4 linked regions of the Homo sapiens genome follow. The protein of the gene in region 2 interacts with the protein of the main gene of each other region in a pairwise test. Each region holds a gene or a part of one and is shown on either strand. Other genes may lie near its edges. The genes, in order: PSMA1, PCBD1, NTAQ1 and FXR2.

Region 1 (7,021 bases), on a different chromosome or scaffold from region 2:
TTAATACAATGTATATCGTTTGAGACCCTGTTATGTCTAAGAAGAACGTGATACTTTTGTCTGGTTTCTAAGGACAAGCTGAACCACACTTGTTTTCTTTGTGCTTGTTTTCTTCAATACATCAGTATTTATTAGACATTTATTTTTTGCAATGCTCAATACTGGATACTGCAGGGTATACATAAGTGACTCAGACATGGATCTTGTCTTAAGGGAACTTGAAGGCAAGTTTATCTATAAACTCAAATGTAGTTTATCTATAATATAACAGAAAAATTTCTGTGAGAGTCTAGAAGAGACAGATTATTTATGGTTAAAAGGCAATACATAAATGAAGAGATAGGGCTTTGAAATTGCACATATTGAGTTCTCACCTTCACCACTTAGTATCTGAGATTTGGCTAAATACCTAAACACTGAATTTTTTCCAGTGTTTTCTTTATCAAGGCTATTTTTAAATGTTATTTATTTATTTTTTTGAGATGGAGTCTCACTCTCACCCAGGCTGGAGTGCAGTGGTGTGATCTCAGCTCACTGCAACCTCTACCTCCCAGGTTCAAGCGATTCTCCTGCCTCAGCCTCCCGAGTAGCTGGGATTACAGGCACCCGCCACCACGCCTGGCTAATTTTTGTATTTTTAGTAGAGACGGGGTTTCGCCATGTTGGCCAGGCTAGTCTTGAACTCCTGACCTCAGGTAATCTGCCCACCTCAGCCTCCCAAAGTGCTGGGATTATAGGTGTGAGCCACTGCACCCAGCCTATTTTTAAATATTTTAAATTGCCTACTGTAAACCACTAACACAGAGCCTTTCAGGTATTATGTGAGTATGTGTGTTGTGGATGGCAGGTAGTTAGCTAAAACTAATCTTGTAAATTTGTGATTTGATTAGGAAAGAAAGAATATAAATTATAAGGGTGGGCCTGGCACAGTGGCTCCTACCTATAATTCTAGCTCTTTGAGAAGCTTAAGGTCAAGAATTTGAGACCAGGGCAACATAGTGAATCCCCATCTCTACAAAAAATTTTAAAACTTAGCTGGGTGTGGTGGCACACACCTGTTGTCCTAGCTACTCAAAAGGCTGAGGTGGGAGGATTGCTTGAGCCTAGGATTTCAAGGTTGCAGTGAGCTATGATAGTGCCACTGTACTCTAGCGTAGGCAACAGAGTGAGACCCTATTCTTTTTTTTTTTTTTGAGACGGAGTCTCGCGCTGTCGCCCAGGCTAGAGTGCAGTGGTATGATCTCGGCTCACTGCAACCTCCGCCTCCAGAGTTCAAGGAATTCTTCTGCCTCAGCCTCCCGAGTAGCTGGGACTACAAGCATGTGCCACCACACCCGGCTAATTTTTGCATTTTTAGTAGAGACGAGGTTTCACCATATTGGCCAGGCTGGTCTAGAGCTCCTGACCTCGTGATCCACCTGCCTCGGCCTCCCAAAGTGCTGGGATTACAGGCGTGAGCCACAGCACCTAGCCGAGTGAGACCCTATTCTTAAAACAACAGCAGCAGCAAAAACAGTGTAAATAGTAATGCTATGGTTTAAGAATTTCAGGCTGAGCATGGTGTCTCATGCCTGTAATCCCAGCACTCTGGGAGGCTGAAGCGGGTGGATCACCTGAGGTCCGGAGTTCAAGACCAGCCTGGCCAACATGGTGAAACCCTGTCTCTACTAAAAATAAAAAAATTAGCTGAACGTGGTGGCAGGCACCTGTAATCCCAGCTACTTGGGAGGCTGAGGCAAGAGAATCGCTTGAACCCAGGAGGCAGAGGTTGCAGTGAGCTGAGATCATGCCATTGCACTCCAGCCTGGGCAACAAGAGCGAAACTCAGTATTAAAAAAAAAAAAAAAGAATTTCAATTTACTCAGCCAGTCCCTTGCTCTAAGTCAGCAATATAATGACAGCCTTAAGGGTTTCCACCTACTCTTCAAAATGGAAAATGTATTATATTATCAAACATTTTATTTAACCCAATCTATAAAATATTGCCATGCCAACACATAATCAATATAAAAACTTTATTAATGAGTTATTGCACGTTTTTAGGTACTAAGTCTTTGAAATTTGGTATGTTATTTTGTACTTGGTGTACATCTCAATTCAGTCTAGCTACTTTTCAAGAGCTCCATAGCCACATGTGATTATTGCCTGCCATATTGGGCAGTATACTTTTAGGCAGCATTGGGAAATGGACTTAAATATAAGTACTGAACAAATAGCTTGGTTCCTGTAGTCAACCATGTGATGATCAGATGTGACATACGCATATACTGGACAAAGCAACATTGAGAAAAAGGAGCATATCCATTTCTTGTTTATCTTATTTATAGGCATAAATTCTCTTCTCCCCAATGTTAACCTTGCTTGAATTTCATCAGATTTAACAGTGAGACTCAGCGGCTAGTGTCCAGTATCTCCTCTAGAGTGCTTCTTATGAATAGAAGTAACAGTGGCAGAAACACGTAAAGATCCCCCCTGCTGTGTTTTCCATTTCTTATATTTGCTCTTTTGGAGAAATGTTAGTCTGCTTTCAAGAAAAAAGGACAGAGTAGATAATCTTTTTGCTGGTTCGAGATCTAGAATTACGACAAGCTTGCTGACAGTGGGAAGGATAAGAGAAGAGAGGTTGCTGTTTTTCTTTTGTTCAGCCTTCTCTTCTCTGTTCCATAAGTGCTCTGATACAAAGATTTTCTAGAGCTAAAAAATGTTTCAGTCTTTTTTAAAAACCTTATGTGGCTCCAGAGTTTAGCACAAAAACGCACCCTTGCAGGCATGTCTTTCTTACCTTCTGTTTTTCTTATATGGATGTTATCCATGTAAACGCTTGGAAGAATTTGAAGTGAAATCAAACAATTTAGATTGGAATAGTTGTCTATAATTTGAAATTACTAAACTTTTTTTGTTTCTTTTTTAGTAATTTTATGCGTCAGGAGTGTTTGGATTCCAGATTTGTATTCGATAGACCACTGCCTGTGTCTCGTCTTGTATCTCTAATTGGAAGCAGTATCCTTTTTATGTTAGCATTTATGGATATGAACTTTGAAGGGTTTTGATACTTGTGTTAATTATTAGGAATATAATAATAATATGACATAGGTAAGATTGTGAAAACTTTAAAACAACAAATTGGATTGCTCTTTCATTAGCCTTTATAAGCAATTTATATTTGCTAGACACAAATAAGCCCAACTTCAGGAAAATCATCTAAGCATCTTTTTAGAGGGGATTTAAAGTTTCTTAATGGTTCTAGATGTCCCAAGAAATCCTAGACCCCTTGTATCCAAAACAAATCAGGTTTTAGATGGGAAGAAATTATTTTGCTGGCACTCTTTCTTAGGTTCGGTAGAAAGTCAAACATTTTATATTAGGCCAAAGAAATAGTGTCCTATTGCATTATTTCTCTGGTGGATTATGCAACAATTAAAGAATAAGCCAGAGACCTTTGTTAATAATGTATAATTTGAAAATAAAGACAGTACTTCATTCCTTGTTAAAACAAGCTCGTTAACCAGTCTAAGAGACCCAGATACCAACACAACGATATGGCCGGAGACCATATGGTGTTGGTCTCCTTATTGCTGGTTATGATGTAAGTTCATTGAATATTGTTATATGTTAATGATTTTTTTTAATTAACTAGAAATTTTTATAATTTTTAGTTCAACCAAAGTAAATAATTATGTGGTGTATTTATTTCTATTTGTAGGATATGGGCCCTCACATTTTCCAAACCTGTCCATCTGCTAACTATTTTGACTGCAGAGCCATGTCCATTGGAGCCCGTTCCCAATCAGCTCGTACTTACTTGGAGAGACATATGTCTGAATTTATGGAGTGTAAGTGACAGCCTTGCTTTTTTTTTTTTTTTTTTTTGCCTTTTCCAGTCTATATAGTAAATAAACATAGTATCCTAAATGCATAAAACTGTAAGTCTTATAGAAAGAATTTTTTTAAAAAAAATTATGCCCATGAAGAGTTTATTGTTTCTGTCACATATACTAATCTTAACTTCTGGTTACCACAGTAGTTTCAAGCACGAGTAGAACTTTTTCAAAATATAAATGTGTTCCCAACCTTGAAAATTCTTGATTCATTTGGTCAGAAGTGTGCCCTGTGGAGTGGAGAGTGGAGAACCACTGTACTACCTGCCAGTTGTAAGCTCTGTTCACTTTTAGTTTTCTGTGAGTCTTTTGTTATTTTAAGCCACACAGACATTTCTGCATTAGTAGTCCATAAACAAGAAATAAAAAGGCAGTGTAGTTGAGGGAGAAGAAGGTAAAAGAGGTAAGATGTTATGACAGGACAGGTTTTCAAGTGCTTTGCTTTGCATTGGAAGGAGGGTATCGGGTTTTACATTTCTCTTTGTCATCTTATCTGTTTTCTGGTGACAAAGCATTCTTTGGAGGAAATATTTGGGGTTTAGTGAATGCAGAGAAAAATAGTTTAATTGACATTACTCAAAGCAAACTTGTGGGATGACAATAGGTTTAACTTTGGGAAAAGAGGATTCCTTGGACAAATAAGCTTGGTAAATGCTGGCTTAAAGTTTAACATTGTAAATTATGGTAAATGGTTTGGGGTCCCCAAGGTTACCCCTAAATTTGGAGATATGCTAGGACTTAAAGCGCACAGCATATAGTTGTACTCCCAGGTAAGACTTTTAACAATAAAATAACAGTACATAGGTGGATCATTAAGGAAAAATACAGTCCAGAGGAATCTATGTGCAGGCTTCCTTATGCTCTTTCCTTCCCATAAGGAGTCACAGAGTACACTTGCAGCAATATGTATGTGATGTTTCTGCCCAGAGAAGCTCATTAGAAACTCAGTGTCCAAAGTTTGGTTCAGAACTGCTCATATCAGCACCCTCTGCCTAGCACATTTCAACCTGGATAGGAAATTCCTAAAGATTGCAATAAATCTATAGATAATTTTGGGGAGTACTGCTACTTTGATGATACAAAGCATCTGATCCATGAACATGGAATATCTTCATTTATTTAGGTATTTAATTCTTTTTTTTTTTTTCCTGAGACGGGGTTTCACTGTTTTTGCCCAGGCTGGAGTGCAATGGCGCGATCTCGGCTTATTGCAACCTCTGCCTCCCAGGTTCAAGCAATTCTCCTGCCTCAGCCTCCTGAGTAGCTGGGATTGCAGGCATGCGCCACCACGCCTGGCTAATTTTGTATTTTTAGTAGAGACGGGGTTTCTCCATGTTGGTCAGGCTGGTCTCAAACTCCCGACCTCAGGCGATCCGCCCAACTGGGCCTCCCAAAGTGCTGGGATTACAGGCGTGAGCCACCACACCCAACCAGGTATTTAATTCTTTCACTGATGTTTTGTAGTTTTCAGTGTACAAATCATATTTGTCTTAAAGTATTTTATTATTTTTGGTGCTGTTGTGAACAGAATTGTTTTCTTAATTTCATTGCATATTATTCATTGCAACTATATAGAAATACAGTTGATTTTTATATATCAATCTTATATCCTGCAATCTTGCTGAACTTGTTTATTAGTTCTAGTCATTTTTTTATAGATTCCTAAGATCATGTTGTCTGGGAATAGAGATAGTTTTACTTTCTCCTTTCTAACTGCCGTGGCTGGAACCTCTGGTACAATGATGAATATAAGTTGCATGAACAAACCTTCTTTTTTTTGTTCCTAAACTTAAGGGAAAAGGTTTTAGTCATTCACTGCTAAGATTGATGTTACCTGTCAGCTTTTTGTAGATGCCCTCTATCAGACTGAAGAGGTTCCTTTCAATTACTAGTTTGTTTTGTGTTTTTATTATGCAAACATTTTAGGTTTTATCACGTGCTTTTTATGCATCTCTTGGGGTGGTTATGCAGGTTTTCTCCCTTCCTTCAGTGTAACTGAAAATTACACTGACTTTCAGTTGTTAAACTAACTTATTCTTGGGATAAATCTCACTTGTATATGGTATATAATTTTTTTAATGTGTTGCCAGGTTCCGTTTGTAGTTTTTGTTGAGGGTTTTGTTTTGTTTTGTTTTGTTTTTGCATCTATATTGGGTCTGTAGTTTTATTTTCTTGTGATGTTTTTATTCTTGTTATCGGTAATACTGGCCACATAGAATAAGTTGGAGATTCCTTTTTACAATGAGCAAATATAAGGACTAGGATTCTACAGAACACATTCTACAAAACTTGGAGTTGTATAATTTATAGTCGGGATTTTGATTTGACCTAGCAAAAGAGAAGATCAAAATCGTAACAAAAATCATGAGTCCTCTCATTAAATAAAATAAGAATCAGCAATGTCATAGAATGCTATTAAAAGATTATATGACTAGCATTAAACTTGGCTGTTTTTACTGTGATAAATTTAGTGTGTAACTAAAAACCACAATTTGAGACTGTAGATTTGATAAATAACAGAAGCCTAGCATAACAATGAAATTAAGAAATAATTGTTAATTTATTACATATAGGTAATTTAAATGAACTAGTTAAACATGGTCTGCGTGCCTTAAGAGAGACGCTTCCTGCAGAACAGGACCTGACTACAAAGGTAAGTATTGTCTTTTCCAATTGTAGATATTAACGTTACAGTTTAAACCTTTATTGCATAAATGTAATGGAGTATATATGCAACATTCTGTAATTTGGGATATGATTGTCTTGGCAGATTCTTTTCCTTTAAGCTATTTGCTAAGTAATCCAATTTTATTTTTTAAACATTTCTTTTTGGTACAAAGCAGTAAAACCAGTAAATTTCATGCAAAATGTCCTTCATTATTTTCAGCAGATTGGCATATCTTGGTATTATTTAGTTAACAAAAATATATATATATTGAGCACCTACCATGTGCAGGCACTTTCTAAGCATTGAAAATACAGTAAACACAACAAATAACTTTTTCTTCATGGAACGTACATCCTAGTAGGGAAAGATAGACAGTATATACATAAGTACATTATATAGTATATTAGAAGAAGATAAATGCTATGTAAAAAATAAAAAAGCGTTAAAAGGAGAAAGAATGACCAATTGGATGTAG
Region 2 (7,834 bases):
CACGCCAGCCCACACCTGGCTTCCAACAATTTGTTAAAACTGAACTGATTTCTTTCTTCTTACCCACTTTAATGGAGGCTGCCCCTTCCTCCAAGCACTGCCCAAGTGAGCCAGACTGCACATCCTGCCTCTCCTTGGAGGGACCTGCCCCCTTGGAATTCAGGATACTTGGTTGCCCTGTGAGCTCACCTCCCTGGTGAGCTCAAGAAAAGTGATGACTTTGTAGTGCATGCAGTCTTTTCTCATTGTTAAGTATGATAGCAAGGCTTTCTGCCTCCTGGATGGAAGGTGAATACTTCTTGCTGTCCTTAAGTCTTTCCTTCCACCGTCTCTCACCACCCATTCTCAACCTAACGCTACACATTTTAGGTTGCTTTTATAGCAACATTCCACTTTCAGGCACCAAATTTTGTTCCTGCCATTTGTTCCTATTGCTGCAGAACAAATCATCATGCTGAGTGGCTTAAAACAAAAATTATGATTTCTCATGCTTCCACGGGTTGACTGGTCTCACTTGGGGCCTCACGTGGGATTGAAGTCAGATGTCTCCTGGGGCTGAAGTCATCTGAAGGTTTGGCAGGTCTGAGCATCCAAGAGTCTCACTCACGTGGCTGGAGAATGATTAACAGTTCCCAGAGTTTCTTTGGCTTAGTCTTAGAAGTTATAGCTGGATGTGGTGGCTCACACCTGGAATCCCACACTTGGGAGGCCAAGGCCCAACATTTGAGCCCAAGAATTTGAGACCAGCCTGGCAACATAGAAATGTCCTGTCTCTGTAAAAAATTTAAAACATTATCCAGGCATGGTGACTACCTGGGGGAGCTGAGGCAGGAGGATCACTTGAGCCCAGGAGGTCAAGGCTGCAATGAGCTATGATTGCACCACTGCACTCCAGCCTGGGCGACAGAGCAAGACACTGTATCAAAACAAAGTCACATGGTGACATTTCTGCCATATTTGACTGGTCATACTGGGCCATCCCAGATTCAACATGGGTGAGAACTATGCAGGGTGTGAATATTGGGAGTCATGGTTCATTGGGGGCTATCTTTGGAGACTAACATCCTGCCTAACACTACATACCAAAAGGGACCTTTCACATTTAGGTCTTAAATCTATCTAACTATAAAGTTAACAAAAGAAAAGGGAGTATATTTTTGTAGCAGGGTGGGGAGAGGACTTATCAAATAAATTTTCAAATGCACAAAATTATAAGGCAGAGGGAAAAAAGATAAATCTTATTACACCAAAATATAAGATTTCTGCCCACAGACATCATGGATCTCATGCAAGAAGTCAGTATACAGATGGCAGAATGAGAGGAGATATTTGCAATATCAAAACTGACAAGCAATTAATGTCTAGATTTTATATAAACACCCACAAACCAACTAAAAAAAGAGAGCACTAAAAATTCTCAAAAATTGGCAAAGGATATTAAAAAGCAATTCACAAATAGTAACCCCCAAATGGTAACAAGCATATGAAGAGGTTCTCAAAATCATTAGTCATCAGAAAACAATGTAGAGTAAAACAATTGAAAGCGGCAGGAGGCAGACAATTTCCTAGGCAGATGGGGGTGGGTCCCCAGTGAAACCCCACCTTCAAGCCAAAAACAGCCTGGACTGCTGGTTTGGGATGAAACCCCTCAAACCAGGGTGAGAACTTCTGTTCCTGTTTGCCCACCCTTTCCTGATTGGTTCTTTCTGAATAATGCTTTTTAACCAATCAAATGTTGCCTTTTCTAATACTACCTACAGCCCGCCCCTCCCCAATCCTGTGCCTATAAAACCCCCTAGACTCAGCCACACTGAGATAGACAACCCCACCTTCTCAATCCCTCTCCACTGAGAGCTGTTTCATCGTCAATAAAATTCTCCATCCTCATCACCCTTCAACTGTCAGCATGACCTCATTCTTCTTGGATGCAGAACAAGAGCTCAGGACCCACCAAATGTGGGCACCCACAAAGGCTGTAACGCTGGCCCTCTACCCTCACTGGTGGAGGGCAGCTGCCCCACAGAACAGAAGCTGCAGCAGGGCCAAGCTGGTCCAGGAGCCACGGGCCAGAGTGGAGAAAGGGGCCGCCTGAGCTGCCAACATGCCGCTGTCCATCAGGCTGCAGATGGTGGAGATAAAAGAGCTATTTAGCACACTGTAACACCCCTCTCTGGGGCTTCAGGCACCCCTGCCTGGGTGCTGCCACAGTCTCCTTGGGGTGACACACCTGATCTGGCTGTGGGCCCCACACAGAGCCTGTTCCTGTGTCATGGCTCAGTGCAGCTGGCTGGACCCTGCATTCACTCGGTCACATGCTCCCTCCCGCCAGGGGCTGAGCATACAGTCGCAGTGGCCTTGTGAGCCATGGGCTGTAACACAAGCCAGATGGGGCCTGGCAAGCTGAGTAGATAAGGCACTCCCTGCTGCAACCTCAGCAAAGGGGTCAAGAAAAATCCTGCATCACAACAAGCTCTCATTTTATAGCTATTAGCCTGACAAAAAAATAAAAAGCTGGCTAATGGGAAGTGTGAGTATGTATGTGTAAGATGCATATGGAAATAGTACCCCCTCACACCATGCAGGAGAGAATGAGGACTGGTGTCCCCATCCTGGACATCATCTAGAACTATTTTGAGATACACACCCATGGGGGGAATTGCTGGATTTATAGGGTATGGATATACTTAAGTTGCCTAAGAAACTGCCCACAGCCCAGGGAGCAATTAGAGATGTTCACTGCAGCAGCATTGTTGTTTAACTCTGTGTACGTATGTGTTTGTGTGCCCACATGCTCACGGGCTTGGGAGGTGGTGGTAGCAGCAGAAAGTTGAAGGGAACCTGAGTGTCCATCACTGATAGAACAAGAAACCCATGGCAGATTCTCATTACAAAATACTAGGCTGCAGTTAAAAGCTACAGATTGAATATACATATAGCAACATGGGTAGATCTTAATTTTCCACTAAATACTCTGTTTTGTAAGAAACAGACTGAGAAATGTAATATATTTACATAATACCATTTACATAAATTTAAAAATACACATAGACGAAACAACACCACACATTTTGCAAGAACCTGTGCAAACAAAAATACACATTAACACATTAGAGAGGCTGCTATGGGCGGTGGTGGGGGGCGGGGAATAAAAGTGGAGCACAAGAATAAAAGTTAATAGAAAAATGTGAAATGTGAGAGGACTTTTCTAATCTGACTCTAAGACTTATTATAAAGCTATAATAATCAAGACAAGGTAGTGTTCTGTCATGACAGACAAACAGATCAATGGAACAGAAGAAAGGGCTCAGAAATAAACCCACATGTATACAGTCAATTGATATTTTACAAAGGTGCAAAGACAACTCAGTGGAGAAAGGAATAACTGAGTCGCCATGTGCAAAAGTGCATCTGGATCTATAACTTGAAGCATATAAAAATATTTACTCAAAGTGGATCACAGACTAAATGTAAAACCAAAAGCTATAAAACATAGGAGAAAACTTTTGATCTTGGGTTAGGCCAAGATTTCTATGTGTACAACATCAAAATAGAAATCCATAAAAGAAACATTTGATATATTGGATTTCATCAAAATTAAGAACGTTTGCTCTTTGAAAGGCACCATAAGATAATGCAAAGAAAATATTTGCAAATCACTGCCTGATCATGTCCTTATATCCAGAATAAAACACCCTCAAAACTCGATAAGAAGACAACCCAATTTCTTTTTTAATGGGCAGGAAATTCAAACATGCTATTCAATAAAAAAAACTTATCCTTAGCAAATAAGTACATGAAAAGACATTCAATACAATTACTAATCAAGGAAACTCAAAACCACAATGAGATACTGCTACACACCAATTAAAATTTAAAAGGCTGACTATATCAAGTGTTGGTGAGGACAGAGAACTGCAACCTTCATACACTGCTGCTAGGAATATAAAATGATACAACCATTTTGCAAAACAGTATGGCAGTTTCCTAATAAGTTATAAAAGTCCACCTACCACATGACCCAGGCATTCCATTCCTAAGTGTTTACTCAAGGAAAATTAAAACATACGTACTTTCGAAGATTTGTGCACCATATTCGCAGCAGCTTTATTTGTAATAGCCAAAAGGTAAACAACGCAAATGTCCAATAGTGAATCGCTAAACAAATTGTAGTCTATCTGTACAATGCAATACTATAAAATAAATTTTACTTAGCCATAAAAGGAAGAAACCATTGATATAGGCAACAACATGGCTGAACCCCAAAACAGTTATCCTGCCTAGTATATACTCTATGGTCCATTTACATAAAATTCTAGAAAATGCAAACTAATTTATAGTGACCTAAAGTACATCAGTGCTTGCCTGGCCAGGTGGTTTCGGGAGGAAGGGGTTACCAAAGGGCAAGGGAAAACTTGCAGGGATGATGATATGTTCATAATGTTGATCTCGGTGATGGTCTCACGAGGGAAACATTAAAATTTATCAAATTGTACACGTTGAATATGTGCAATTTATTGCATGTCAATTATATCCAAATAAGAGATTTTTATAAAGAAAAAAATAGGTATTCTGGCGCCCAGGGCCACCCAGCTGTAAGCGGCGGGGTGGGATTCCAACCCAGAAGCGGGCATTTGGAGCCCTCATGCTTCACCCTAGCTCCCTGAAACAAGCACGGAGGATGGCTCTGAGCAGCGAGGAAAGTGCTGGAAGCAAGCAGGCCGAGCGCGTCCCTGGCTGGGGACGTTAATCATTACCGGAGGGCGGCCCGAGCGCGGCCCCGCCCCGGGACGGCAGCCTGCGCGCCCGGCCGCCGCCTGCCCTCTCCGCTGGCCACCTGCTGCCGCCCGCGCCATGGTGAGTCCAGGGGTGCGCGGCCGCGATCGGGGCAGCGGGGCCGGGGCAGCCGCGGGCGAGGTGGGAGCGGGAAGGGGCGGGGGAAAGTCTTTTCGAGTCCCCTGCGGAGCCGCCGGGGTCCGAAAGTGGGGTCTCTGCCCGGCTCTCTGTCGCTGGCGGCGGGGAGGGGAAGCTGAAGCCCTGAGAGGGGCGGTGGCGGGTTCGAATCCCACCCAGTTGGGAGGCCAGGCCTGCCCTGACCCCGGCCAGTGCTTGTTCCGGGACCCTTCCGGGGGCGGGGCCTACGACCTTCCTGGGCCGGGGAAGACAGTCGTGGAGGAGTCCACGGATCTCGTCCCCTTGGTGGCCCGATTCTGCTTTATACTGGGGTGGGAGCGAGAGGGAGGCTGAGTTTGCGCGCTCGTGTGCGTGCCTGTCCGCTGCCCCTTCCCGCTGGCACTCTGGGTACGGGGTCTGCCTGGGACTCACGCTCTGCGCCGGTATGCTGGCCCCAGAGCCACTCCCCGCGCCGGCTTGAGGCCCGTGCCAGGCCACGGGGGCTTGGTGGCGCTGGAGCAGCCCTCCTCCCGTGAGCTTCCCCCACCCACCCCCGGGGCGGGGGCGGGGGCGGGGCCCTTGCTCTGCTGTAAGCTCGCGAGCTTCATCAGACCATTTCTGGTCCACAGGCCTTCGGAGCAGGCAAGACTGGGAGGGCCTTTTGATAGGAGAGGGACTTGGGGGAGGGAGGATGAGTGGGGCTGTTTGTGAGGGGCGCTGAGGTCCCAGAGATGCAGGCTTGGGAAATCGGTAACCACTCCCCACACCTCGCCAGAGGAGGCAAACGGGGCAGCGTCCCCCTCTCTGTCTCCAGAGCCGGCACCTGGAAGGTTTGTCAGTTCAGCCGCAGGCTGTGCGACCTGGGGGGTTCCAGAAGGCTCTACCGAGAAAGGGAAGCCTCCTAAGAGCTCACCTGGACTCACCCACCCCTTTAAGAGCCAAGGAAGTAAACAGTGGGCTCTGATGCTTTGGCTGACTTCTGGTTGTCTAGATACACGGACCAGGCGGTCAGCCACGGGGAGAAGGCCAGCTCTGGAGTAGAGACCTACCTACTGGGCAGATGATGCAAATCGCTGCTGCCATTCAATCCCTATAGTCATCCAGAGCCGAGGGGAAGAGAGGGGCCAAGCTACATCAGTCCAGAGAGAGCTCACGTTTTCAGGAGGGAAAACAGCAGGGAAAAAAGACGGACTTAGGAAAGCACTGCGATGCTTCAGCTACCCCAAATGCTACCAGGCCCATCACAAGCCTGCTTGCCTTAGGAAGTTTTTTTTTTGTAATGCAGATGACATTTGCTTTATAGCAGTGGAGTTTCCTAAAGTGTCCCATTGGCACCTCATGATGATCTGTGGAGGTGGAGGTTCTGCCAAGAGAGGTACAGCCACCTGGCTGGTAAATGGTGAAAGCGGGTCTCAAAACTCCTGCCAATCAACACATGGTGTCCAGTCTGCAGGCTGCCTCATAAAAGCTAAATCAACCTCCCTCACATTCCCTCCCCACCCCTAAGGGTATCTTTTCAATTCAGCACTCTATTTCTGCCCTGGGGTGGTGCTACTCTAGAAGCCTAGGTTCTGGGATCTGTTAAGCTCCTAGACCTGGATCCTCCTAGGATGAAACTGACCCTTGCTTCCTTGCTTTCTCTGAGGTTCCACTCATGGCCTGAATTGTGCCAATTTGGGCTGCCTTGAGGGCACTTCGCACATTAGGTAAATAGGATGGGGCACTAGGTTTGCCAGCTGCCTTTGGCCAAGTTCCTTCCACTTTGGCCTGAGCTTCCCAACCAGCCAGAAAAGCAGACGGAAAACCAGAGAAACCTAGCCCTGGCGGCTCAGGACCAGAGGCTGCCTGGGAGCATGACTGAGGACCTACTAGAGGTAGTGCCAACGGCGGTCAGCTGCAGTGTGGCTAAGAATGGGATGGACACTTATTTTAAATGTAGCTCCTTCGTCCAGCCCCAGCAATGCTGACACACAGACAACACTGCGCCATCACTGGCTAGGGGTGGGCGGGAAAGAACAGCAGACAAGTCGTTTCCCCTCTCTAGGCCTGTTTCCTCTTCAATACACGTGAAAGTTACGGTAGGGACGTGGGGTGCATATGATGAAGTACATAATAGGAAAAGGAAGGGGGGAGAGTCATGGGTACTCTTCCTGAGAGGTTGTGGAGTAACATATTTGCATCTGGGATTTATTTTGCTTTTACGCCCTCACTGATGTAATAATCTCATGGAGGGAAGGTCCGTAAGGCTTTGAGGGCAGGGTGGGGGAAGAGTGCTTCTCTGTCCCCGTCATATGAATTACATTGCTTTTGTGATTTCCCTTGTGTGTGTGTGGAGTGTTAAAACCCAAGACCTGAGGGCCTATCGGCAGACGAGCCTGGACCCCACCTCCTGGGCAGGGTGCCACCCTTGAGGCCTCCCAGCCTATTGCTCAAAGACCTGCTGCCCTTTGGTCACCCACGTCCAAAGCAGCCAGTGGAAGCTAAGTTCCCCTAAAGGTTGGAGCCCCTCTGTTTTGACCTATAAAGAGAAATGCCCTTGGGCCTCTGTTTTTTTCCCTCTTCTAGGCTGGCAAAGCACACAGGCTGAGCGCTGAGGAGAGGGACCAGCTGCTGCCAAACCTGAGGGCTGTGGGGTGGAATGAGCTGGAAGGCCGTGATGCCATCTTCAAGCAGTTTCATTTCAAAGACTTCAACAGGGTATGGCACCAGGGTGGGACAGAGTTTTCTGAGACGGGCTGATGGGGTCACCTTACAAAGCATGTTCTCTCCCTTCACGTCTTGTTAGCCAAGACTCTCAGACACCACACTCATCCAGTTATTTGGGCACTGTGCCAGTGGGGAAATTAATTTTCCTGTCTAACTCAGAAAGTATCATCTTTGGGGATTGGAGAGCCATAGGAGGATGTGTCTTGGGCTCTCCCTTCCTGGAACTTTTAGCAGCAGT
Region 3 (7,021 bases), on a different chromosome or scaffold from region 2:
GTTGATCATTTACACACTAATGCTTCTAGCAGCACTATGAGGTAGACCAAGCTTGTCTAACCTGCAGCCTATGGGCTGCATGTGGCCCAAGACAGCTTTAAATGCAGCCCAACACAAATTTGTAAACTTTCTTAAAACATTATGAAATTTTTTTGTGATTTTTTTTTTTTTTAGCTTATCAGCAATCGTTAGTGTTAGTGTATTTTATGTGTGGCCCAAGACAATTCTTCTTCCAGTGTGGCCCAGGGAAGCCAAAAGATTGGACACCCTGGAGTTAGATACTCCAGTTATCTCCATTTTATAAAAGAGCAGAGTGAGGTTGCCGAGGGGAGGGGCTGAGATTGGAACCAGGCGCTTACCTGCTCCTGCCTGCATTGCTCTCCTGCCTGCATTGCTCTCCTGCCTCTGATGTTCTCTGTTCTCCACAATATCCTGCAGCAGTTTACCTGGTTCCCATTCACTTCTCTGGGAACTTCTTGAGGGTGAGAACTTATCTTTTTCATCTTTGCATCTGCAGTTCAGCAGCACAGTCTTTCACATAGAATAGATAATGTGTGGTTCAAAAAAACTGATATGGGACTGGGCACAGTGGCTCACACCCATAATCCCAGCACTTTGGGAGGCAGAGGCAGGGAGATCACTTGAGGCCAGGAGTTCGAGACCAGCCTGGTCAACATGGTGAAACCCCATCTCTACTAAAAATACAAAAATTAGCTGGGTGTGGTGGCGCGCCTGTAATCCCAGCTACTCGGGAGGCTGAGGTGGGAAAATCACTCGAACCCCGGAGGTGGAGGTTGCAGTGAGCTGGGATTGTGCCACTGTGCTCCAGCCTGGGTGACAGAGAGAGACTCTGTCTCAAAACAACAACAACAACAAACCTGTAATATGAATTAGAAGATGTTAAGAGAGAAACAGAATTTGGATAAGGCGGAGATTCTGGCAGGGGGTGGGAGAAGATAAAAAATTGATTCGTGGGAAGAAAGCCTTTAGCTGGAGCTTGTGTGGTAGAAAGAGGTAGAGAAGGTTGCTGCAGATGGAGGGGAATGACATGAGCAGACCCATTGGGAGGCAGTGGTGGACTGTTTGGGGGCGTGGAGGATAGGATGTATCTGGGGAAGTCCAGAGAATAGGCATTCATTTTTGAATCTTTCTGTTTTGCTAAGACAGACTTAGAGCCAAAGGCAGCACTCAGGCTTTTAAAGGCACAGCATCCCTAGTCTTAAGTATTGTTCTTACCTCAGGATTTATACAGGGCTCAAGTAGAATGATATTTGAGAAAGAAAGTGCCTTTTAAACTCTAAGATATTGTAGAAATATAAGTTGGTATTACTAATGTTGCTAGGTTGCTTTGATTTCACAGTGCTGTTCTCTATGAGAGCGTTTTTCTTTGGAAGAACTCAGAGCACCACATTGCTCATGTCCCTTGATCACCTCCCTGAAATCCCTTTCAGCTCATCGCTGGTGTTGGGCAGTACCTTGAGTCTGAGAGTGAGGGTGAGAATTAACATCCACACTGTGACAGAGCTGTGTGGGAAAAGCTGTCTTTTTCTTTCTCCCTTAGTGGCTACAGATGAAAGCTTGGCTAACTTCTTTTTTTAAAAAATAGTTTTTCCTTTCTTTTAATTGCAAAAGTGGTTCCAAACTAGAAATTAAAGTCCTCCTTCTCCTCTCCAGGCTGACCCCCAGAAGCCTCCTTTGTTACTAGTTTGGAGCAGATCCTTGCAGACGTTTTCCTCTGCATTCACATGCATGCAAATGTACTTCTGAATGCGCACGTATGTCTTTATATACAGATAGCTTTTAACAAATAGCAGGTGGGGCCGGCACTGTGGCTCACACCTGTAATTCCAGGACTTTGGGAGGCTGAGGCGGGGGGATCACTTGAGGCCAGAAGTTGGAGACCAGCCTGGCCAACATGGTGAAACACCATCTCTACTAAAAATACAAAAATTAGCTGGGCGTGGTGGCGGGTGTCTGTAGTCCCAGCTACTCAGGAGGCTGAGGCAGGAGAATCGCTTGAACCCAGGAGGCGGAGGTTGCAGTGAGCTGAGATTATGCCACTGCACGCCAGCCTGGGTGATAGAGCAAGACTCTGTCTCAATTAAAAAAAATATGTGGGGCCAGGCACCGTGGCTCACACCTGTAATCCTAGCACTTTTGGAGACTGAGGCGGGTGGATCGCCTGAGGTCAGGGGTTCAAGACCAGCCTTGCCAGCATGATGAAACCCTATCTCTACTAAAAATACAAAAAATTAGCTGGGCATCGTGGTGCGCGCTTGTAATCCCAGCTACTCGGGAGGCTGAGGCAAGAGAATTGCTTGAACCCGGCAGGTGGAGGTTGCAGTGAGCTGAGATCATGCCACTGCACTCCAACCTGGGTGACGAGAGTAAGACTCCATCTCAAAAAAAAAAAAAAAAAAAAAGTTTCCTAGAGGTAAAATTGCAGTTTCAGAGGATGTGCATTTAATGACTATGAACATTTCCATTATTTAACCATTTCCCTATCTGTGGACATTTAGTCTGTTTTCATGTTTTCAGGGTGTTGTGTTTGCTTTATTCTATTTTGCTATTATAAGGAGGGCTGTAGCAGTCCTATATCCTTTTTAGTGATAAGGTATGTGTCTGAATACTGGGATTTCATCATTATGAAGTAACTTGGTTAACTTCAGCAACTTTTACTTTTAGGATTACCATGTTGTTTTGCTTCATGTTTCAAGTGGAGGACAGAACTTCATTTATGATCTCGATACTGTCTTGCCATTTCCCTGCCTCTTTGACACTTATGTAGAAGATGCCTTTAAGTCTGATGATGACATTCACCCACAGTTTAGGAGGTGAGGACATTCAAGATGGATTTACTTATTTTCTGAAGTAAGAATTTGACGATTCCACAGAGGTTCTTTTTTTTTTTGACAATTGTTTTGTAAAGATCTCGTCTGACATCACCATTGAGTTGATGTTTAAGAATGATGTATTTGCAACACAGGAGATTCAAAATGTTTTAAAGCTTTAAAAGTTATCTATCATATGAAAGGTTGTCATTCTTTTAAAATTTTGTGTGATGAGATCTCAGACATTTAATTTCAAGCGGGTTGGGGATTTTTCTTATATTCTTTTTGTTTTTGTGGGGATACCTCGTGCTGTCACCATTGAGAGGGCTGTGAGGGCAGCATCAGAAAATCATGCCCATTGCCCTTGATACACAAATCGAGTAAATCGAGGCAACCAGATATATTTTTGTGCCTTTGCCTTTCTGTTTCGGGGTTTGGTTGATCATTTCCTATGCTTCTCTAATAGGTAGTAAAGTTGCCTGTATTACTAACCATACAGAAATGCATGAGTAGTTTTGTGCATGTCATAGGAAATGAGTCGATATAAAAATGGAGTTAGAATTTCAAACATGACATCTCCCTAATGTGAGTGTATATTGATTTTTCTGCAGGAAATTTAGAGTGATCCGTGCAGATTCATATTTGAAGAACTTTGCTTCTGACCGATCTCACATGAAAGACTCCAGTGGGAATTGGAGAGAGCCTCCGCCGCCATATCCCTGCATTGAGACTGGAGGTGAGCCAAGATGCCTTCTCAGATGGGGGTTCTGATTGATCACATACACATCAGCATTTTTCCTTAACGGAGGACAAAAGTCAGGTTGTTCTTTGAATAAAACTCCATGAGTGAATCCCAGCACTTTGGGAGGCCGAGGTGGGCGGATCACGAGGTCAGGAGATAGACACCATCCTGGCTAACACGGTGAAACCCTGTCTCTACTAAAAATACAAAAAATTAGCCAGGTGTGGTGACAGGCACCTGTAGTCCCAGCTACTAGGGAGGCTGAGGCAGGAGAATGGTGCGAACCTGGGAGGCAGAGCTTGCAGTGAGCTGAGATCGGGCCACTGCATTCCAGCCTGGGTGACAGAGTGAGACTCCATCTCAAAAAAAAAAAAAAACAAAAAACAAAAAACAAAAAATTCCATGAATGATAAGGAGGTCATAGGAAATACTACTTCTGTGTGTGTATTAGATTCAGAAATGAAGGCACAGAGAATAGGACTGGAAGGCATAAGAACATGTGGGAGAGGAAGGGTGTTAAGGATCAGAACCAGGGCACCTGCAAACTGCTGGATTATTGGATGTAGCTACTGCGGGGACACTGAACATCAGGATACTCGCATGCTTGTGTCATTTAACAGCGGGACTAGTAGCACCTTGCCATGGTAGGGTTTTGTGCTGTGGTGAAAGAAATCCCCATTGCATCCTTATGATGTGTGAAATGTCACTTTGGCTATATAATAAAATCTGCATTAGAGGGAGGTGAGCGCTAGCAGGTTTTATTGTACCACTTGTCTCATTTATGTGCTTTTAGGCATCAATCCAGTTGATAATTTCCTGACATTTAAGAAGATAAAGGGTCCTTCACCCTATTACTATTGTTTGGCATTCATATGAGTTTGAAGTATTATTTACGTTTGTAAGTAATTCACAACATTCCCACTTAGGGGTGAGATCATCCCAACACCTGGATAATACAGTCTGTGTGAAAGTGCTCTGTGAGCTCTGCAGCATGTCAGAAAAATAGGGCAGTAGTGTTAGTACTTCAACAAGGGTCTGAGCGTGGTGGCTTATGCCTGTAATCCCAGCACTTTGGGAGGCTGAGGTGGGTGGACCACCTGAGGTCAGGAGTTCGAGACTAGCCTGACCAATGTGGTGAAACTCCGTCTCTACTAAAAATACAAAAATTAGCCGGGTGTGGTGGTGTGTGCCTGAAGTCCCAGCTCCTTGGGAGACTGAGACAGGAGAATTACTTGAACCGGGTAATTGCTTGAACCGGGAGGCAGAGGTTGCAGTGAGCCGAGATCGCACCACTGCACTCCAGCCTGAGTGACAAGAGCAAGATTCCATCTCAAAAAAAAAAAAAGAAAAAGAAAAAAATAGTTTAACGGAAGAAAGTAAAATATACATTTGGCATATTTGAGGGGACTGAACACTAAGAGAGGGTTCAAACTCTGATTTTTGAGGCTCTCTATGAAAAGCTCTCATAATTTAAAAAATTATATTGGAATTGCTTATCAGTACACAGAGCTGCTTCCTGGCCTCAGTGTGAGAACTGGGGAAGCTCCCTGGTAAGGAGAGGGCTCGAGGGGTCTGCCTTAGCATCTATGGCAACCTGCTCTACAGGGCCTGGTCTGGCCACAGTGTGCCTTTAGCAGCTACCTGTTTCCCCTTGAGATGTGAGCACCTAAGACAGAACCTAGTGCATCGCAGGCATTTAGTGAACCCCTTGTCAGCCCTGGTCCAACTGGGGCAATTCCTTTTGTTTTGATGACTACTAGTCATTGGATGCTGTTTTGTGCTGGGCTTTTGCCAGCCCAATTACTATATGGGCTGCCGAGGTGAGCACTGCCAGCCCAATTTTCTTTCTTTCTTTTTTTTTTGTTGAGACTCTTGTTGCCCAGGCTGGAGTGCAGTGGCACGATCCCAGCTCACTGCAACCTCCATCTCCTGAGTTCAAGCAATTTTCATGCCTCAGCCTCTGGATTAGTTGGGATTACAGGCATACACCATCACACCTGGCTAGTTTTTTTTTTTTTTTGAGACGGAGTCTCACTCTGTCACCCACGCTGGAGTGCAGTGGTGCGATGTCAGCTCACTGCAAGCTCCGCCTCCCGGGTTCATGCCATTCTCCTGCCTCAGCCTCCTGAGTAGCTGGGACTACAGGCGCCCGCCACCACACCCGGCTAATTTTTTTTTTGTATTTTTAGTAGAGATGGGGTCTTACCGTGTTAGCCAGGATGGTCTCGATCTCCTGACCTCGTGATCTGCCCGCCTCGGCCTCCCAAAGTGCTGGGATTACAGGCGTGAGCCACCGCGCCGGCCACACCTGGTTAGTTTTTATATTTTTAGTAGACATGAGGTTTTGCCATGTGGGCTAGGCTGGTCTTGAACTCTTGGCCTCAGGTGATCCTTCTGCCTTGGCCTCCCAAAGTGCTGGGATTACAGGGGTGAGCCACTGTGCCTGGCCCATATTAACCAAAAATTAGCCAGGCGTGGTGGTGCACGCCTGTAATCCCAGCTACTCAGGAGGCTGAGGCAGGAGAATTGCTTGAATCTGGGAGGTGGAGGTCGCAATGAGCCAAAATTGCACCACTGCACTCTAGCCTGGGTGACAGAGGGAGACTCTGTCTCAAAAAAAAGAAAACAGACTTTAAATTAATGCATGTTTTAGATACATGCATTATTGGGTATGTTGGATTTAGTTATGGAATTGACTCTTTTTTTTTTTTAATCAAGGTAGGGTCTCAGTATATTGCTCCTACCTTGGCCTCCCAAAATACTGAGATTATAGGCATGAGCCACCACGCTGGCCAGGATTAACTCCTTTTTTTTTTTTTTTTTTTTTTTTTTTGAGACGGAGTCTTGCTCTATTGCCCAGGCTGGAGTGCAGTGGCACAATCTTGGCTTGCTACAACCTCTGCCTCCTGGATTCAAGCGATTCTCCTGCCTCAGCCTCCCAAGTAGCTTGGATTCTAGGCACCCACTACCACACCTGGCTAGTTTTTGTATTTTTAGTAGAGACGGGGTTTCACCACGTTGGCCAGGCTGGTCTCGAACTCCTGACCTCAAGTGATCCACCCCTCTTAGCTTCCCAAAGTGCTGGGATTATAGGCGTGAGCCACCACGCCTGGCTGCTTTTCGTCTTTCTGAGTAAAGGTTGAGAGTAGCGTTCCTTTCTTCTTTTTTTTTTTTTTTTAGACAAAGCCTTGCTCTGTTGCCCAGGCTGGAGTGAAGTGGCGTGATCTTGGCTCATTACACCCTCCAACTCCCAGGTTCAAGCAATTCTCCTGTCTCAGCCTCCTAAGTAGCTGGAATTAGAGAGGTGTGCCACCATACCCAGCTAATTTTTGTATTTTTAGTAGAGATGGGGTTTCACCATGTTGGCCAGGCTGTTCTCTTAACTTCTGACCTCAAGTGATCTGCCCACCTCGGCCTCCCAAAGTGCTGGGATTACAGGTGTGAGCCA
Region 4 (7,572 bases), on a different chromosome or scaffold from region 2:
GATTACAGGCATGAGCCACCGCACCAGCCTTAGCATTTACATTATTATGATTTTTTTTTTTTTTTGAGATGGAGTTTCACCCTTAATGCCCAGGCTGGAGTGCAATGGCGCGATCTTGGCTCACTGCAACCTCTGCCTGCTAGGTTCAAGCAATTCTCCTGCTTCAGCCTCCCGAGTAGCTGGGATTACAGGCATGTGCCACCACACCTGGCTAATTTTGTATTTTTAGTAGAGATGGAGTTTCTCCATGTTGGTCAGGCTGGTCTTGAACTCCTGACCTCAGGTGATCTGCCCACCTCGGCCTCCCAAAATGCTGGGATTACAGGTGTGAGCCACCATGCCTGGCCTCATTATTATGATTATTATGATTATACGAATACACGTATGATCCATGTGGATAGTTACAATTCTTTTTCTTTCCTGTACCATTTTTGTTTTCCCTGGAATTAATAACTGCCTTGTCCTCTCTGTTTGCTTAGTTTCCTGTGTACTCTAATTTATCCCCAAATTCTCCCTTAATTAATCTCTTATAAGGATATACAAACACTTAGGGATTTCAATCTACGTCATTTTGAAGAACTTTCTCAAAAAGCTCTTAGACCTGCTCCAGTCCAGAGAGGCGATCTTGAGGCTGCGCAATTGGGATCTCCCTTCACCTTTATCCTGGGGATCCCCTTTGCCTCTCTCTTGTGTTGACGTCCTGTTTCCTGGAACCTGTGTTTCCTCTTTCTATGTTTACTCTTCTTATTTTGATGGAGCTTTTTGAGAAAGAGTACCGGGAGGTAAATTTGTTGGGAACTTAAAAGCCTGAAAATGTCTGTTCTATTACTGCACTTAATTGAGAGTGTGGGCCGGGCGCAGTGGCTCATGCCTATAATCCCAACACTTTGGGCAGCCGAGGTGGGTGACCCACCTGAGGTGAGGAGTTTGAGACCAGCCTGGCCAACGTGGTGAAACCCCGTCTTTACTAAAAATACAAAAAAAACAAAAACAAAAACAAAAACAAAAAAAACAAACCTAGCCAGCTGTGGCAGTGGGCACCTATAATCACAGCTACTCAGGAGGCTGAGGCAAGAGAATCACTGGAACCTGGGAGGCAGAGGTTGCAGTGAGCCGAGATCATACCACTGCACTCCAGTCTGAGTGGCAGAGTAAGACTCTATCTCAACAACAAAAAAATATTGAGAGTGTGGCTAGGTATAGGAAACGAGGTTGGAAATAATTTTTTTTTTTGAGACAGAATCTTTCTCTGTCACCCAGGCTGTATGTAGTGCAGTGGTGTGATCTCGGCTCACTGCAACTTCAGCCTCCCAAGTTCAAGAGATTCTCCTCCCTCAGCTTCCTGAGTAGTTGGGATTACAGGCACACGCTACCACGTGTGGCTAATTTTTATATTTTTAGTAGAGATGGGGTTTCACCATGTTGGCCAGGCTGGTCTCAAACTCCTGACCTCAGATGATCCACCCACCTCGGCATCCCAAAGTGCTGGGATTACAGGCGTGAGCCGCCGCACCCAGCTAATTTTTGTAGTTTTGGTAGAGAAAGGGTTTCGCCATGTTGCCCAGGCTGCTCCTGAACGCCCGAGCTCAAGTGATCTGCCTGCTTCAGCCTCGCAAAGTGCCAGGATTACAGGCATGAGCCACCACACCTGGCCTTGGAAAATTTTGTTGAATAATTATTACTATTGATTTTAGATGATTTTATCCTTTCCAGATAATTATTTCTGTTATCACTTTCTGGAATTCTGGTTATTCAGATGTTGTATCCCATGGACTAATCCTTTAATTTTCTTATACTTTATTTTCCTTTCTTCTATCGCCTTTATTTATTTTTGTTTTTTATTTTAATTTTTTGAGATGGAGTCTCGCTCTGTCACCCAGGCTGGAGTGCAGTGGCACAATCTTGGCTCACTGCAACCTCTGCCTCCTGGGTGCAAGCGATTCTCCTGCCTCAGTCTCCCGAGTAGCTGGGACTACAAGCGCGTGCCACCATGCCCAGCTAATTTTTGTATTTTTAGTAGAGATGGAATTTCACCAGACTGGTCTTGAACTCCTGACCTCAGGTGACCTCAGGTGATCCACCCGCCTCAGCCTCCCAAAGTGCTGGGATTACAGGCATGAGCCCTGTGCCTGGCCATGGTTGCAATATTAATAATTATTATAAATATTAATAATTTTTCCAGTGTCTTTCTTCTGCCATCACACTATGAAGTCAGAGACTTCCAAGTCTGTTTGTCTCCACCATTAAATACAAAAATTTAAAAATTAGCCAGATGTGGTGGCTAAGCTCAAAGGGCAAAAAAAAAATAAAAGTAAATTCATCACCTTATTTTCTAAACCTTTATCTCCTATGTTATCTCTTCCATGATTGGCATTACCATTTACTCTAATCCAAGAAGTGGATGGAACATAGGACAACTCCCAGAATGTGAAGTTTTCCTGCTACTACCCTTATTTCATGACAGTTTTTCCTATTTTGAATTTCCCCAGCATTATTTATTATTATTATTACTATTTTTTGAGACAGAGTGTCGCTCTTTTTGCCCAGGCTGGAGTGCAATGGCACAATCTGGGCTCACTGCAACCTCTGCCTCCCAGGTTCAAGCAATTCTCTTGCCTCAGCCTCCCAAGTAGCTGGGTTTACAGGCATGCACCACCATGCCCAGCTAATTTTTGTATTTTTAGTAGAGATGGGGTTTCACCATGTTGGCCAGGCTGGTCTTGAACTCCTGACCTTGTGATCCACCCATCTTGGCCTCCCAAAGTGCTGGGATTACAGGCGTGAGCCACCGCGCCGGGCCACTATTATTATTATTTGTTGTTGTTGTTGTTGAGATGGAGTCTCGCTCTGTCGCCCCAGCTGGAGTGCAGTGGCACGATCTCCGCTCACTGCAACCTCCGCCTCCTGGGTTCACGCCATTCTCCTGCCTCAGCCTCCCGAGTAGCTGGGACTACAGGCGCCCGCCACCACGCCCAGCTAATTTTTTTTTTTTTTTTTTTTTTTTGTATTTTTAGTTGAGATGGGGTTTCACCGTGTTAGCCAGGATGGTCTCGATCTCCTGACCTCGTGATCCGCCCGTCTCGGCCTCCCAAAGTGTTGGGATTATAGGCATGAGCCACCGCGCCCTGCCATTATTATTATTTTTAAAGAAGAAATTTCACTCATTGCCCAGGCTGGAGTGTGGTGGCATGATATCCACTCACTGCAACCTCCACCTTCCTAGGTTCAAGCGATTCTCCTGCCTCAGCCTCCTGAGTAGCTGGGACTCCTTCCGAGTAGCTGGAACTACCACGGCTAATTTTTTGTATTTTAGTAGAGACGAGGTTTCACCATGTTGGCCAGAATGGTCTCCATCTCCTGACCTCGTGATCCGCCCGCCCGTGATCTCGGCCTCCCAAAGTGCTGGGATTACAGGCCTGAGCCACCGCGCCCGTCCTAATTTTTGTATTTTTAGTAGAAACAGGGTTTCGCCCTGTTGAGGCTGGTGTCAAACTTTTGGGCTCAAGTGATCCACCGCCTGAGCCTCCTAAAGTGCTGGGATTACAGGAGTGAGCCACAGCGCCCGTCTGAAACTATTCTTAAAGCTTTCTTTCTATTCTTTCTTTCTTTTTTTTTTTTTTTTGAGACTGAGTCTTGCTCTGTCGCCCAGGCTGGAGTGCAATGGTGCGATCTTGGCTCACTGCAACTTCTGCCTCCCAGGTTCAAGGTAGTCTCCTGCCTCAGCCTCCCGAGTATCTGGGATTACAGGCGCGTGTCACCACGCCCGGCTAATTTTTGTATTTTATTAGATGCGGGGTGGGGGGGGGGGTGGGTTTCACCATTTTGGCCACGCTGGTCTCGAACCCCTGACCTCAGGTGATCCGAGGACCTCAGGTGATCCACCTGCCTCGGCCTCCCAGAGCGCTGGGATTACAGGCGTGAGCCACCGCGCCCGGCCAAAACTTTCATTGTATCACAATCTCTTCAAGGTAAGAGCCATGACTGTTAAATCTACTACAGTAGAGAGTTACAGATTCTTAAAATATCGGCGATGCATACGCGAAGAGGGTAAAGCTCAGCGCGTGCGCACCAAGCACCTTTTTCCTTGCGGCGACTCCTCTTCTTTTTTTTTTCTTTTTGGAGCGTGCGCACCAAGAAAGACAAAGGTGGGGAAAGTGACCAAGCAGTCGTTCAGGCGCATGCCCATCCCTAACTTGTCCAAGCCCGGTGGGGCCAGCGGCGGCGGAGTGGGTGTGGCCTGAGCGCTGTGTGACTGTGCGGACGCCGCCCAATCGGACTGAGCGAGCCCGGCCCCTCCCTCCCCCTGATTGGTTGGTTCTCAGTGTTGTGGGGCGGGGAAAGGAAGAGACGGGGTGGCTGGGCGGTGGAGCGGTGAAGAAAGAAGGCTAATCTTGTTCTGCGCAAGCGCTAGCAAGCGACCAGGAGGGGGAGTGAGAGAGTGAAAGGGAATGTGGAAGCCCCGATGCGCTAGCTGGCGCTAGCTGGGGCTCTAACCTTGACGCCTGCGCGGTGGCCCTCGGGGCCCCGCGCGCAGCGGGCGGGTGCCCGGTGCGCCTGCGCAGTAGGCGGCGGTGGCAGGGGGAGGTGGAGGCTGTGGAGCGGCAGCGGCAGCAGCGGGTCCCGGGACTGAGGCAGCAGCGGGGGCGGCGGCGGGCGGAAGCTGAGGTGACGAAGGCAGCGGCGGCGGCGGCCGTTTCCCTCACGGTGGCGGAGACCAAGGCGGCGGCGGCGGACGGGGAGCGGCCCGGCCCCGGCCCCCTGCTCGTTGGCTGTGGCAGGGCCGCCGTGGGGCCGGCCCGGCTCCCGCCCCCCGCGGCTCCCCCTCCGGCTCCTCCTCCGGGGAGACGCCGGGGGCCTGGCCCGGCCCGCACTCAGACTGCTGCTGCAGCCGCCGCCGGGGGAGTCGGAGGCGGTGGCGGCGCCATGGGCGGCCTGGCCTCTGGGGGGGATGTGGAGCCGGGACTGCCCGTCGAGGTGCGCGGCTCCAACGGGGCCTTCTACAAGGTGAGACGGCGCGCCGACTGGGGACGCCGGTCCTTAGCCCCCTCCCCTGGCCGGAGCAGGAACGCGTGGGGCGGGATCGAGCTTCTGGAGCTGAGTCCTGGCCCTTAGAATCTTGGACCCTTGCTCCAACCCGCAGCCTTCCCTGGGAGACCGCTTAGAGTGAACCCTGTTCCTCTTATTTTTGACCCCTCTAAGGCACCTGCACCTGCTTCTACCCCCATCTCCGGGAGAATGAACTTCAGGCCATTATTGTCCCTGGCTTGGCGCTCCCCGCTCCGCAGGAGAGACCCCTTTACCCAGCTTCTAATTGACTGTGTCCGTTGTCTGGTGGAAGACATACCTTAGACCTTAATCACATCTTCCCCACGATCCAAGCACATGGAGAATTGTCTTTCTTCCACACGGTCCCTTTGGGAAGGCCCTCTGTCCCGTAAAAGATCCTTTCATCTTCCTCAGAGAGGCCTCTGCCTACTGGCTCTGGAACACTCACCCCACTTTCATCTTATATTCCGGTTCCCAAGCCAAGGAGAAATGGTCAGATCCATTTACGACGTTTGGCATCTTTGACCTCAGGAACCCTGGGTTGGATCAGTCAAGTTGCTTCCCAGCCAGCCATAAGGTGGCATCTTTCGCAAGTCTCTCTCCCCACCACACCTTGATCTCAAGACCCACTGCTCTACCATTCTACTCAGGAATGGATTTGAGGTCTCACTTAGACCTCAGATACCTTCAGGTCATTCATATAGTTTCTTCGTCTTGAGGCATGTAAGCTTCATAGTCATAATCTCTAAAAGGATCTCTGAAAGGAAGCTTATGAGGTTCCCTTCTGTTTATCTTAAGATTTCCACTTCTTGAAGACTCTTGGCCAACTATCCCAGTTCGGGAATCTGACAACCTTTTTTGGAAGACGGGATCATCTTTCAAAGACCCTTCCTTATTTCACCTCCCCCTTTGCCCAGGATTTGGTTCCTTAGAACTCCTTATAATACCACCTTCCTTATCTGCTCTGAATCTATTTTCTAGGACATTTTTTTCCCATTTAGATTAAGCCAGAGAGAGCCCTTTCTTGCCTCCCAAGAGTTTTTCTTTGTGTGACTGTTGGTATTCTGAACCTCTTGGATTTGATGCCTGGAATTGTCCTAGAGACTCTCCTGATTTCTGTCTCATTCTTTGATTTCACCCTGGGGAGCTGGGGAAGAGATACCTTCCCATGGCATCACTTGTTAAGAGTGGATCCCCCTTCCCCCTTTCCTTCAGTTCCCCTCAGGCCTTTTTCCCCCACTGTAGTCCTCTCTAGTTTCTCATGCCCTTGGAAATGTCTTTCTTTGACTCCTTCTCTAAGTCATATTTTTCTATAACTGCAGAGGGTCTTGTAATTTCTCTTGGGTGGTTTCTGCCTGTACTTCAGTTGCTAAGTGCATTGTAGTCATTTTTTTTTTTTTTTTTTTTTTTTTTGAGATGGAGTCTCGCCCTGTTGCCCAGGCTTGGAGTGCAGTGGTGCGATCTTGGCTCACTGCAAGCTCCGCCTCCCTGGTTCGCGCCATTCTCCTGCCTCAGCCTCCCGAGTAGCTGGGACTACAGGTGCCCACCACCATGCCCGGCTATTTTTTTGTATTTTTAGTAGAGACGGGGTTTCACTGTGTTAGCCAGGATGGTCTCGATCTCCTGACCTAGTGATCCACCTGCTTCGGCCTCCCAAAGTGCTGGGATTACAGGCGTGAGCCACCGCGCCCGGCCATTGTAGTCATTTTTTACTCACTCTTCATACTTACCCATTTTTGCCTTACTTCCCTCATCAGATTTATTTCTCTGCGGTGACTGTGGGTACCCATGTCTAACTTACCTTCTCAATTCAAGTTTTTAGCTTTTTCTCCTAATATTTCTGTATTCCTGTGTAATCCCCAGGAATCACCTTATTCCCTGTCTAGCTGAAGGAAGCTCCCTGCTGATCTCTTTTTGTCATTTTGTGCATACTTGCCTAACTCTTGGGACTTTTTCTTCTAGCCTGCCTCCATAGCATTTCTGTTTTCTTTGGCAAAAGTCTCTAATTCCTTTCTGCTTTTGATAGAGCACATTTGTCTCTCATATCCTTTTCCCCAAACTTGCATTACCTTTGTTGAAATAGCTTCCTAAAGTGGCCCTCCCTGTTTACCTTGGTATCTTTTCCTTCATCTGGGTCCTTACCACCCCCAAATTCTGAGTTCCAAGAAAAGTGATTCTTAAGTTGAGTCCAAGATCAAGATATGATGTTTGCTTTGTTCTAGGAAGCGTAGGAGCCCTGCACAGCTGAGAAAGATTGGTATCCAGTTCAAATGAACTGTATGAGATGGCTGGGAAGGGACACGTTTTCTGTCCCACATATAAGTGTCCAGCAGAAAGTCTCTCTGAATCTTTTCCCTTTCTCCTGTGTGCTGTGGCAGTGATAGACTTGAATAGATGGGGACCAGGATACTGTGATTCAGAGAGTAGAGTTTGGGGTTGAGCTGAAAGCCAGGTAATGTGGTAATGTGGATCTGGGCAGGTTAGCATTTTCTGCCCTGTTCCTGAGTTAAAAACCACAAATCCCTA

The links.
Region 1: the proteins of PCBD1 (region 2) and PSMA1 interact in binary tests that used the Homo sapiens proteins (3 or more experiments, as listed by UniProt).
Region 3: the proteins of PCBD1 (region 2) and NTAQ1 interact in binary tests that used the Homo sapiens proteins (3 or more experiments, as listed by UniProt).
Region 4: the proteins of PCBD1 (region 2) and FXR2 interact in binary tests that used the Homo sapiens proteins (3 or more experiments, as listed by UniProt).

What each region holds. Positions count from the first base shown.
Region 1 is NC_000011.10:14,510,382-14,517,402, reverse strand, and holds part of PSMA1 (proteasome subunit alpha type-1), read left to right. Parts: intron 1-2,911; coding exon 2,912-3,000; coding exon of another isoform or gene 3,001-3,050; exon of another isoform or gene 3,051-3,493; intron 3,494-3,515; coding exon 3,516-3,586; intron 3,587-3,703; coding exon 3,704-3,833; intron 3,834-6,451; coding exon 6,452-6,531; intron 6,532-7,021. UniProt on the Homo sapiens protein: Component of the 20S core proteasome complex involved in the proteolytic degradation of most intracellular proteins. This complex plays numerous essential roles within the cell by associating with different regulatory particles.
Region 2 is NC_000010.11:70,885,551-70,893,384, reverse strand, and holds the start of PCBD1 (pterin-4-alpha-carbinolamine dehydratase), read left to right. Parts: upstream 1-4,819; 5' UTR 4,820-4,851; coding exon 4,852-4,854; intron 4,855-5,503; exon of another isoform or gene 5,504-5,532; intron 5,533-7,455; coding exon 7,456-7,587; intron 7,588-7,834. UniProt on the Homo sapiens protein: Involved in tetrahydrobiopterin biosynthesis. Seems to both prevent the formation of 7-pterins and accelerate the formation of quinonoid-BH2. Coactivator for HNF1A-dependent transcription.
Region 3 is NC_000008.11:123,433,768-123,440,788, forward strand, and holds part of NTAQ1 (protein N-terminal glutamine amidohydrolase), read left to right. Parts: intron 1-1,674; exon of another isoform or gene 1,675-1,745; coding exon of another isoform or gene 1,746-1,775; intron 1,776-2,685; coding exon 2,686-2,834; intron 2,835-3,442; coding exon 3,443-3,567; intron 3,568-4,366; coding exon of another isoform or gene 4,367-4,449; exon of another isoform or gene 4,450-4,562; intron 4,563-7,021. UniProt on the Homo sapiens protein: Mediates the side-chain deamidation of N-terminal glutamine residues to glutamate, an important step in N-end rule pathway of protein degradation.
Region 4 is NC_000017.11:7,611,884-7,619,455, reverse strand, and holds the start of FXR2 (RNA-binding protein FXR2), read left to right. Parts: upstream 1-4,558; 5' UTR 4,559-4,923; coding exon 4,924-5,004; intron 5,005-5,344; exon of another isoform or gene 5,345-5,392; intron 5,393-7,572. UniProt on the Homo sapiens protein: mRNA-binding protein that acts as a regulator of mRNAs translation and/or stability, and which is required for adult hippocampal neurogenesis. Specifically binds to AU-rich elements (AREs) in the 3'-UTR of target mRNAs.